Regions from separate parts of the Homo sapiens genome. Here region 2 is linked to region 1. Evidence: fine-mapped expression QTL. A gene starts in region 1. The other region holds a variant in brackets. All regions are shown on one strand. Distances are between the middles of the regions.

What was found.
Region 2: its variant is fine-mapped to the expression of NDUFAF5 in blood mononuclear cells (TOPMed, PIP 0.97). The same link has a PIP of 0.9 or more in whole blood.

What each region holds. Positions count from the first base shown.
Region 1 is chr20:13,782,708-13,787,101 of GRCh38, forward strand. NDUFAF5 (NADH:ubiquinone oxidoreductase complex assembly factor 5) reads left to right here and starts at 2,321. Exons shown (of 11, transcript NM_024120.5): 1 at 2,321-2,583. The coding sequence starts at 2,362. It overlaps ESF1 (ESF1 nucleolar pre-rRNA processing protein), which reads right to left and starts at 2,212. Exons shown (of 14, transcript NM_001276380.2): 1 at 2,173-2,212; 2 at 1-476. The coding sequence starts at 433. RefSeq lists enhancers at 2,257-2,546, 2,542-3,231.
Region 2 is chr20:14,027,205-14,031,598 of GRCh38, forward strand. All of the region lies in intron 2 of MACROD2 (mono-ADP ribosylhydrolase 2), which reads left to right. Among named protein-coding and RNA genes, the nearest start is that of MACROD2, 34 kb to the left of the region's middle. The variant T/C (reference allele first, on the strand shown) is at 1,892.

The DNA.
Region 1 (4,394 bases):
TACATGAGGTTTTCATTTTTTTAATTCCTATAGAATTATCTAAATCAGTTTTATTTTCAGAACCCTTGTGATTAGCCTTCTTGGTTTCTTTCTTTTTCTCAACTAGATTTTTTGAATCGATTTCTTTTTTAGTCTGGGTTTTTTTCTTCTTTATTTTCTTTTGACTCAATGCTTTGCTATCTTCACCAGAGAGATTGGAATCAGAATCTGAAAGGTCGTAAAAACGCTTCAAATCCTCTGTAGTGCTATGGCTAATGGGGCGCCCTCTTTTATCCACGGCATAGTTCAACTTGAACTTCTTGTCATGAAACATGGCTCGAAATCTCTTGTCAATTTTGACTTTTCGATCCTTTTCTGGCATTTCCCAAAATCTCGGGTCCTTTGCAACCCGTCTAAACCGCTGGTCACTCATTATTTCTTGTTTGGATGACATTTTTAATTCTTAATCTCGACCAAATGCTTGAAGAAAACAAATACTGAAAAATAAAACAAATGTTTTAATGGTAATAATGGTTAGTACAATAATTAAATGTTTTAAAACACATTCACAATATATTCTAAGTTAATATATTCTAAGTTAAGTGTACATAAAATAGAGGTAACAAGTCTAATTTCATCTCTCCAACGTATTCTGGGTCACATGCAAAAAAGCAGAAACATACCAAAATATCCTCTTTCCATGACAGATCATTTAGAGAAATAAACTTAAGGTAGACAAAGCAGAATCCCAGGGCTTTATGGAGGGGAACAAATGTTTATTCATCCATTGCTCTCACTTAGAATTTCTATTTGTATACCAGTATGTGTTACTAATTGAAGGCAAATGTAGTTAAGATTCCCTAGGCCGAGTGCGGTGGCTCACCAGCACTTTCGGAGGCCAAGGCGGGCGGATCACTTGAGCCCAGGAGTTCAGGACCAGCCTGGGTAACATGGTGAATCCCCACAAGAAATACAAAAATGAGCCCGGCATGGTGGCGCGCGCCTGTAGTCCCAGCTACTTTGGAGGCTAAGGCAAGAGGATCACTTCCACCCGGGAGGTCTTGGCTAGAGTGAGCCTAACGGCACTACAGCACACCAGCTGGGGCAACAGAGTGAGACCCTGTCTACCAAAAAAAAGTAAGAAAGAAAGATTCCCTAGCCTCCGTTGGCCTCATTTGTTTCTTCACATTCTGGTCTCATTCTGCTTACTCCTTATCTCCGGCTACTGCCAACAAACAGCCTTTAGTTCTGTAAGACTAGCATTCTAACTAAACAGACCAAAATCAACTCAGGTTTAGCTAAGAAAGTTTCCTTTTTAAATTCGATCATCCTTCAAAAGTAATAAAAAGTTTAAAAATAAAAAGTAAATTTGAGTCTCCAGGTAAAGTCTCACACCAGTTAATAAATATCACTTCTTTCTATAATATCTGATTCTACCAGTGATGAAGGCCCAAGTGAGCTCATTCCCCCAAAACATACTAGAACATATACATATGTGTGTATAAATTAATATTGTTCCCTTGTGAAAAGTCTCCAATGGTTTAGCATCTCTGGATGGGAATTTTGCAAAGAGCCAAAAGTCGTTGATTATTAAGCAACCCCCCCCCAAAATGATTAAAAGGGCAATATTTCTTATTTAAAAATCAAGTCCTTTTAATTACACTAACTAGGAAAAAAAAGGAAGCTATCGCTGGTGCATTTACACATTTTTCGATGTATTACAGCACTTAACTCTCTGAGCAATCTTACGAGGTAGGTACCACCTCAACCAGGAGAAGTACTGCATGTATTGTAAATGTTTAGAAGGAAAGCACTCATTATATGTCAGATAATCCGAGAGAGGGGAAGGCGACCGGACCTCACTCCCGACACGCGCCCGCATCCCCGTAGCCCACCCTCCCCTTCTGCCCGCTCTCTAATTCGGAGAACACAGGGCTGGCCCCTGAACTAGGGTCTCCTTTCCACCTCCTGTACCGCAGGGGGGCAGCTAACAGACTGATTCGAGAAGCGACCCTGAAAAGGATCGATGAAGACTGAAGAATGAGACCGAAAAAGGCTCAGGAGGAAGGGGCAAAACCCCTCGCAGATCCGAAAGAGATCCTGTTAGAGACTAGTTTTTTCCCCGCGCCACACACACACACGCCCTCAAGCCCTTCATCTCGAGCTCTTCAACTCCAGTCCATCCCCACTCACCGTCCGCAGTCCTACCAAGCCTCACGTGGGGCTCACACCCACAATCCTCCGCGTGACGCTCCGCCGTAATGGCAAGCGAACTAGGCCAAACTACTTGCACGTTCCCTCGAGAAGATCTTTGGAGTAGACACAAAAGCCGCGCTGGCGCATGCGCACAAAAAGCGCCGGCAATTGGGGTCGCAGCTGGAGATGCTGCGGCCGGCAGGGCTCTGGCGCTTATGTCGGCGACCTTGGGCGGCGAGGGTCCCAGCGGAGAATCTTGGCCGTAGGGAAGTCACCTCTGGTGTCTCTCCCCGCGGTAGCACCTCGCCCAGAACCCTGAATATTTTCGACCGGGATTTGAAAAGGAAACAGAAGAACTGGGCAGCCCGGCAGCCCGAGCCGACCAAATTTGACTACCTGAAGGAGGAGGTGAGCCCGCGGGGCGGCGGGGCGGCGGGGCGGGCGACGCGGAGGCTTGTTTTCCTCTCCGCTAGTTCCGGCTAGGCCCCGAGCTCACCCCACCTAGCCGTCTGACCTTGACCAGCAGCCCTGCCTCTTTCGGCCTCTACTGTAATCACGCAAGGCCTGGCCTCGGATATTTGTAACATGCTTTCATTCATTCATGCATTCATTTCGGCAACGTCCTTGAGGCTGAAAGGACCTTATAGAGGCCTCCAGTGAAGCTCCGGAGAGGGAGAGAGTGGGAGAGAAGGTTAGGAGGACCCAAATCATCAGGGCCTTGCAGGATAGGGACTTGGGGTTTTCTTCTGTATCTGCACTGTCCAGCCAGTATGGTAACTGCCGGCCACACATGTGGCTGTTGAACACTTGAAAGGTGACTAGTCCAATTGAGATGTGTTGTAAAATACACACGAGTATAGTGACTTAGTATGAAAAAAGGATGTAAAATAGCTCATTAAGAGCTTTTATATTGATTACATGTTGCAGTGATTATTTTTGATATATTGGGTCACATGAAATATATTAAATATAAATTTAAATTTTTCAATTAAAATTTCTCTCGTTTTTACTTTTTTTCTTATGTGGCTACTAGAAAATTTGAAATTACATATGTGGCTCTCATGATTTTTGGTCAGCACTGCTCTAGGGGAATGTGAAGCTCTTGTTTTAATCAGTGGAGTGATCTGACTTATGTTTTAGGAAGATCAAATTAAGATTTCTGATTTGTCTTGGCTCGTTTGAGAAACCTTTCTCCCTGCCCAGGTGAGCCAGAGACTGAGGGTTTCTACTTTCAGGACACGCATTCTCAAGTTCAGGCCTCAGTAAATTTTTATTCAGGAGTGGAACAAAGTTGGAGTCAAGTATAATGCAACAAACAGTTATTGAACTCATAGCTTGAGCAGAGCTCTGTGCAAGTACAGGTCTGATCAGATGATTGACAGGGTGTCTTTCTCAGGAAGTCTTAGGCTGGTAATGTCTATTATAGGAAGTTTACTACCAATAAATTTTTTGTGTCTCACTTGTAAGGCATGGTGCACGTACTACACTGCTGATGTCGTGTACTTAGAAGATGTGCGCTCATAGCCCTTTCCCTCCAAAGAAAGCACCTGGACTACAACTTGATTGAGGCCTCGCCAATTTGTGAGACTAGAACAAATAAGATAAAGTATATGAGAGTTCTTTTTATAATAAACATAGGGTGTTCATATTAGGAATGACGTACAAGGTGGACTCCTGGGAAAAACATCTACGCTCCCTTCTCCCTTGCCCTTCTCTCAAAAAGCAGGTACATCTGTGTTTGGAACTTTTAAGTCCTAAGAGCAACTCTGGGGTGTTTATGAGGGAATGAGTGGAATGTGGGGAATACTAGACTCCCACGTCTTTATTGCTACCAGATGAAGCTAGGCCAGCAAAAGGTGGTGCTTACCTTATGACTCTTAAATTGGGATGGGATTGGAGCAGGGGAGGTGCACTTTCCTCAGATTTGGCTTTTTCTAACTTGCGAATGTCACTCAGAAAAGTTGTTCATTTATGAGTTCCACAAAATTTGTTAGTCATCAAATAATAGAGTTTTTCTTAAGTGACCACTTACATACTCATCTACAATAAACCCCAACTAACTAATTTTTCACTTTGTGTACCTCATGCTAATATCCGTGGACAGTAATGTGCCTGTTGTGTTCCTTTTGCTTTTCATCCTTGTGATCTTATGTCACATGGAATGTAAAGGCCACATATATATATGTGTGTGTGTGTGTGTGTATATGTATATTTTTAAG
Region 2 (4,394 bases), 240 kb after region 1:
AGTTGATCTTCAATCTCTGATATCCTTTCTTCCGCTTGATCGATTCGGCTATTGATACTTGTATATGCTTCACGAAGTTCTCGTGCTGTGTTTTTCAGCTCCATCAGGTCATTTCTGTTTTTCTCTAAACTGGTTATTCTAGTTAGCAATTCCTCTAACCTTTTTTCAAGTTTCTTAGCTTCCTTGCATTGGGTTAGAGCATGCTTCTTTAGCTTGGAGGAGTTTGTTATTACCCACCTTCTGAAGCCTACTTCTGTCAATTTGTCAAACTCATTCTCTGTCCCATTTTGTTCCCTTGCTGACGAGGAGTTGTGATCCTTGGGAGGAGAAGAGGCATTCTGGTTTTCGGAATTTTCAGCCTTTTTGCATTGGTTTTTCCTCATCTTCGTGATGTGGACGTCCTTTTTGTTGATGTTGATGCTGTTCCTTTCTGTTTGTTAATTTTCCTTCTAACAGTCAGGCCCCACTGCTGCAGGTCAGCTGGAGTTTCTTGGAGGTCCACTGCACACCCGGTTTGCCTGGGTATCACCAGCAGAGGCTGCAGAACAGCAAAGATTGCTGCCTGTTCCTTCCTCTGGAAGCTTTGTCCCAGAAGGGCACCTGCCAGATGCCAGCCGGAGCTCTCCTGTATGAGGTGTCTGTCGACCCCGGCTGGGAGGTGTCACCTAGTCAAGAGGTAAAAGGGTCAGGGACCCACTTGAGGAGGCAGTCTGTCCCTTAGCAGAGTGTGAGGGCTGTGCTGGGAGATCCGCTGCTCTCTTTAGAGCCAGCAGGCAGGAATGTTTACTTCTGCTGAAGCTGCGCTCACAGCCGCCCCTTCCCCCAGGTACTCTATCCCAGGGAGTTGGGAGTTTTACCTGTAAGCTCCTGACTGGGGCTGATGCCTTTCTTTCAGAGATGCCCTGCCCAGAGAGGAGGAATCTAGAGAGGCAGTATGGCTACAGCGGCTCTGCGGAGCTGCAGTGGACTCCGCCTAGTTTGAAGTTCCTGGCGCTTTGTTTACACTGTAAGGGGAAAGCTGCCTCCTCAAGCCTCAGTAATGGCAGCTACTCTCCCTCCCCACCCGCCCACCAAGCTTGAGCATCCCAGGTCCACTTCATACTGCTGTGCTGGCAGCAAGAATTACAAGCCAGTGGATCTTAGCTTGCTGGACCCCGTGGGGGTGGGATCTGCTGAGCTAGACCACTTGGTTCCCTGGCTTCAGCCCCCTTTCCAGGGGAATGAACAGTACGGTCTTGCTGGCGTTCCAGGCGCCACTGGGGTATGAAAAAAAACTCCTGCAGCTAGCTCGGTGTCTGCCCAAACAGCCACCCAGTTTTGTGCTTGAAACCCAGGGCCCTGGTGGTGTAGGCAACCAAGGGAATCTGCTGGTCTGCAGGTTGCGAAGACCATGGGAAAAGCGTAGTATCCAGGCTGGAATGCACCATTCCTCATGGCACAGTCCCTCATGGCTTCCCTTGGCTAGGGAAGGGAGTTCTCCGACCCCTTGTGCTTTCTGGGTGAGGTGATGCCCCACCCTGCTTCTGCTCGCCCTCCCTCTGTCAACCAGTCCCAGTGAGATGAGCCAGGTACCTCAGTTGGAAATGCAGAAATCAACCGTCATTGATCTCGCTGGGGGCTGCAGACCGGAGCTGTTCCTATTCGGCTGTCTTGCTCCAGAGCCCAATTCTTCTCAATCATTTTTTTCTTACCCAGAGTTGTCTGTTTTTCCACAGAGTATCTTTTCTGTGCAGTTAGGAAAGTTGATGATATAGCATACTTCATCCACTGTACTTTGATCTGGGATTTTCTTCTTAACCATTGATACTGGTTTCTGTAAGTGTTAATGCTGGCACTTTCTTCATGTTACCGGATGATGTTAATGAAAGGTTTTCAGACAGTTGCTAGCTCA[T/C]ATTCTTTCTTCAACTGTTCGTTAAATGGATTGTTGCCTGGAATGTTGAGAGGTTGCAATTGTCCAGTTATATCACTGGAAAAAACAACTAAGTTCTTATACAGGCAGAGAGAACTGTCATTGTCACCACCTCTTCAGTAGCAACTATAAATGTCTTTAATTGTAAGCCATCTGCCAATTTCAGAGAAGTTAACATGTTAGGGGAAAAAACGCATCATAGAATTGAACATATATAGTATGTTGAATTTGTTTTGAAATTCAGGTTTTTGTGTCTTGTAATATTTGAGGCTTTCCTCCTTCCCCCATCATGCCTAGCCTAGTCAAAATACTTTTTATTGAATTTATTAAAATAATTACAGTTTATCATGATCCATAGTTTAGAAAAAGAAAGGATATGGGGGCAAGATGGGTAACTTCAGTGACTTTAAGGGCTGAAAGCAACAATTTGGAGCATCGTGTCAAAGTTGTGGGAATCTGATTTTAGAACAATATAAGAAAAAATTTAAAAAATTTTAATTACTTCTGAATGAAGTGGACTCTGACAGTGAATTTGCTGTCATTGAAAGTATTCAGAGAGGTTCTAGATACAAATCACCCAGACACAGTAAAAGCAATTTCTTCACTGGGTGGTAATTGAAGAATATGTTGTTTAATGTGTTTTTCTGACTATTGATATTCCTATTCTAAAATAATTTACCTTTGTACTAAGTGGCCTTCTCTTTTCAGATACTCAACAATGTAATTTATCGATACTTTCTGTTATTGATTGGAACACCATTGAGTTTCTTTCTTAATGTAAGACAGGCAACTAAATGCAAATTACTGTTCTGTTTCTAATTAAGTGATGAAATACACTAAGCCAGGTCATTCTTTGAAACACTGATTGACACAGTGGGAGGAGGGAGCTAAGAAATAGTACTTTTTTTCCTTGCAGATTTTACTTGCAAAGTATTGTAACCTGATTTTCCTTCAGGTCACCTAGATTGGAGTACAGTGATGCGATCTTAGCTCACTGCAGCCTCCAACTCCAGGGCTTAAACCATCCTTCCACTCCTAGCTCAGCCTCTGGAGTAGCTAGGACTACGGAAACTTGCTACCACTTGTGGCTATTTTTTTATTTTTTGTAGAGACAGGATCTTGCTATGATGCCCAGGCTGGTCTCAAATGCCTAGGCTCAAACCATCCATCTGCTTCAGCCTCCCAGTGTGCTGGGGTTATAGGCATGAGTTACTGTGCCCAGCCTATACTCTTCTAATTTTTGATTCTTTCAGGGTTTAGTTGGTGAAAGAGCCATTATGAATTTTATTTTTTAATTTAATTTCTTTTTTTTTGAGATGGAGTCTTGTGGTGATGCCCAGGCTGACGTGCAGTGGCGTGATTTCGGCTAGCTGCAACCTCTGCCTCCCGGGTTCAAGCGATTCTCCTGACTTAGCCCCACTGAGTAGCTAGGACTACAGGCACACACCACCATGACCAGCTAATTTTTGTATTTTTAGCAGAGACAGAGTTTTCCAGTGTTGGCCAGGCTGGTCTCGAACTCCTGACCTCAGAGGATCTGCCTGCCTTGGCCTCCCAAAGTGCTGGGATTACAGGTATGAGCCAGAATTTTATTTTTAATCAAAAAAAGGTTTTAAGGAAATGGCTCACCTTCCTTCCCTCCCTCCCTCCCTCCAAAGGACTTGTGGTCAGACTCTTTGGAATTGCCAGTACTTAATCAGCTGAATGAAGAATTTTCTGATCTTTCTGTTTAGTAGTTCAAATGGTCATTACCAGGATTCTTTGTATACTTTTGGGGAGCAAATTAAATAGATGAAAGACAGCCAACTTTTAGGATGAGAGATAGGCATAGATATATCGTTTTCTTATCTTCTTCCACATACTCAAATTTAGATATCAGGTTATCCATGATTTGCTTTTTAGTTCACCAGACATAGTGAAGTTAACACTCCTAATTTAGTTTTGGCTATATATAACTTGCTAACAGCTCTAGCCTGGGATTTTAAAGACAGCTTAACTATGTTCATGGAATGCTATGACTGGCTAAATATGACTCTTTAATGTTTCATAAAACATGTCTTTTTCCTAAATAGGGTTGTAACATTCTCTTAAATATTTCATGCATGTCTTTCTCTCTCTGTGAGACAGATCTCTCTAGATTTCTCTGGTTTTATTTCTGACATGCTATATGAAGTACTTTTTATTTAAAAGTAAGTACAATATGTAGTATCTCAGTGTGCATATGGCTTGGATGCTTACTTTGACGATGAAAAATTGCTTAAATATGCTGACATCTGAATTGTATCTGTAAATTAATGTTAGCAACTTGAGACTCAGTAATTGTTTCTTAAAATGGATTCTAATTAGTTACAAGTAAAAAGTAACTTTCCCTTAAATGTTGGTTGTATTAATTACAAATACTTTAAAAAGATATATTAAAATGATAAATCTAATTTTTTTCCTGGACATTGATTTATGTTGTGTGATGACATAACAGTACTGGAAA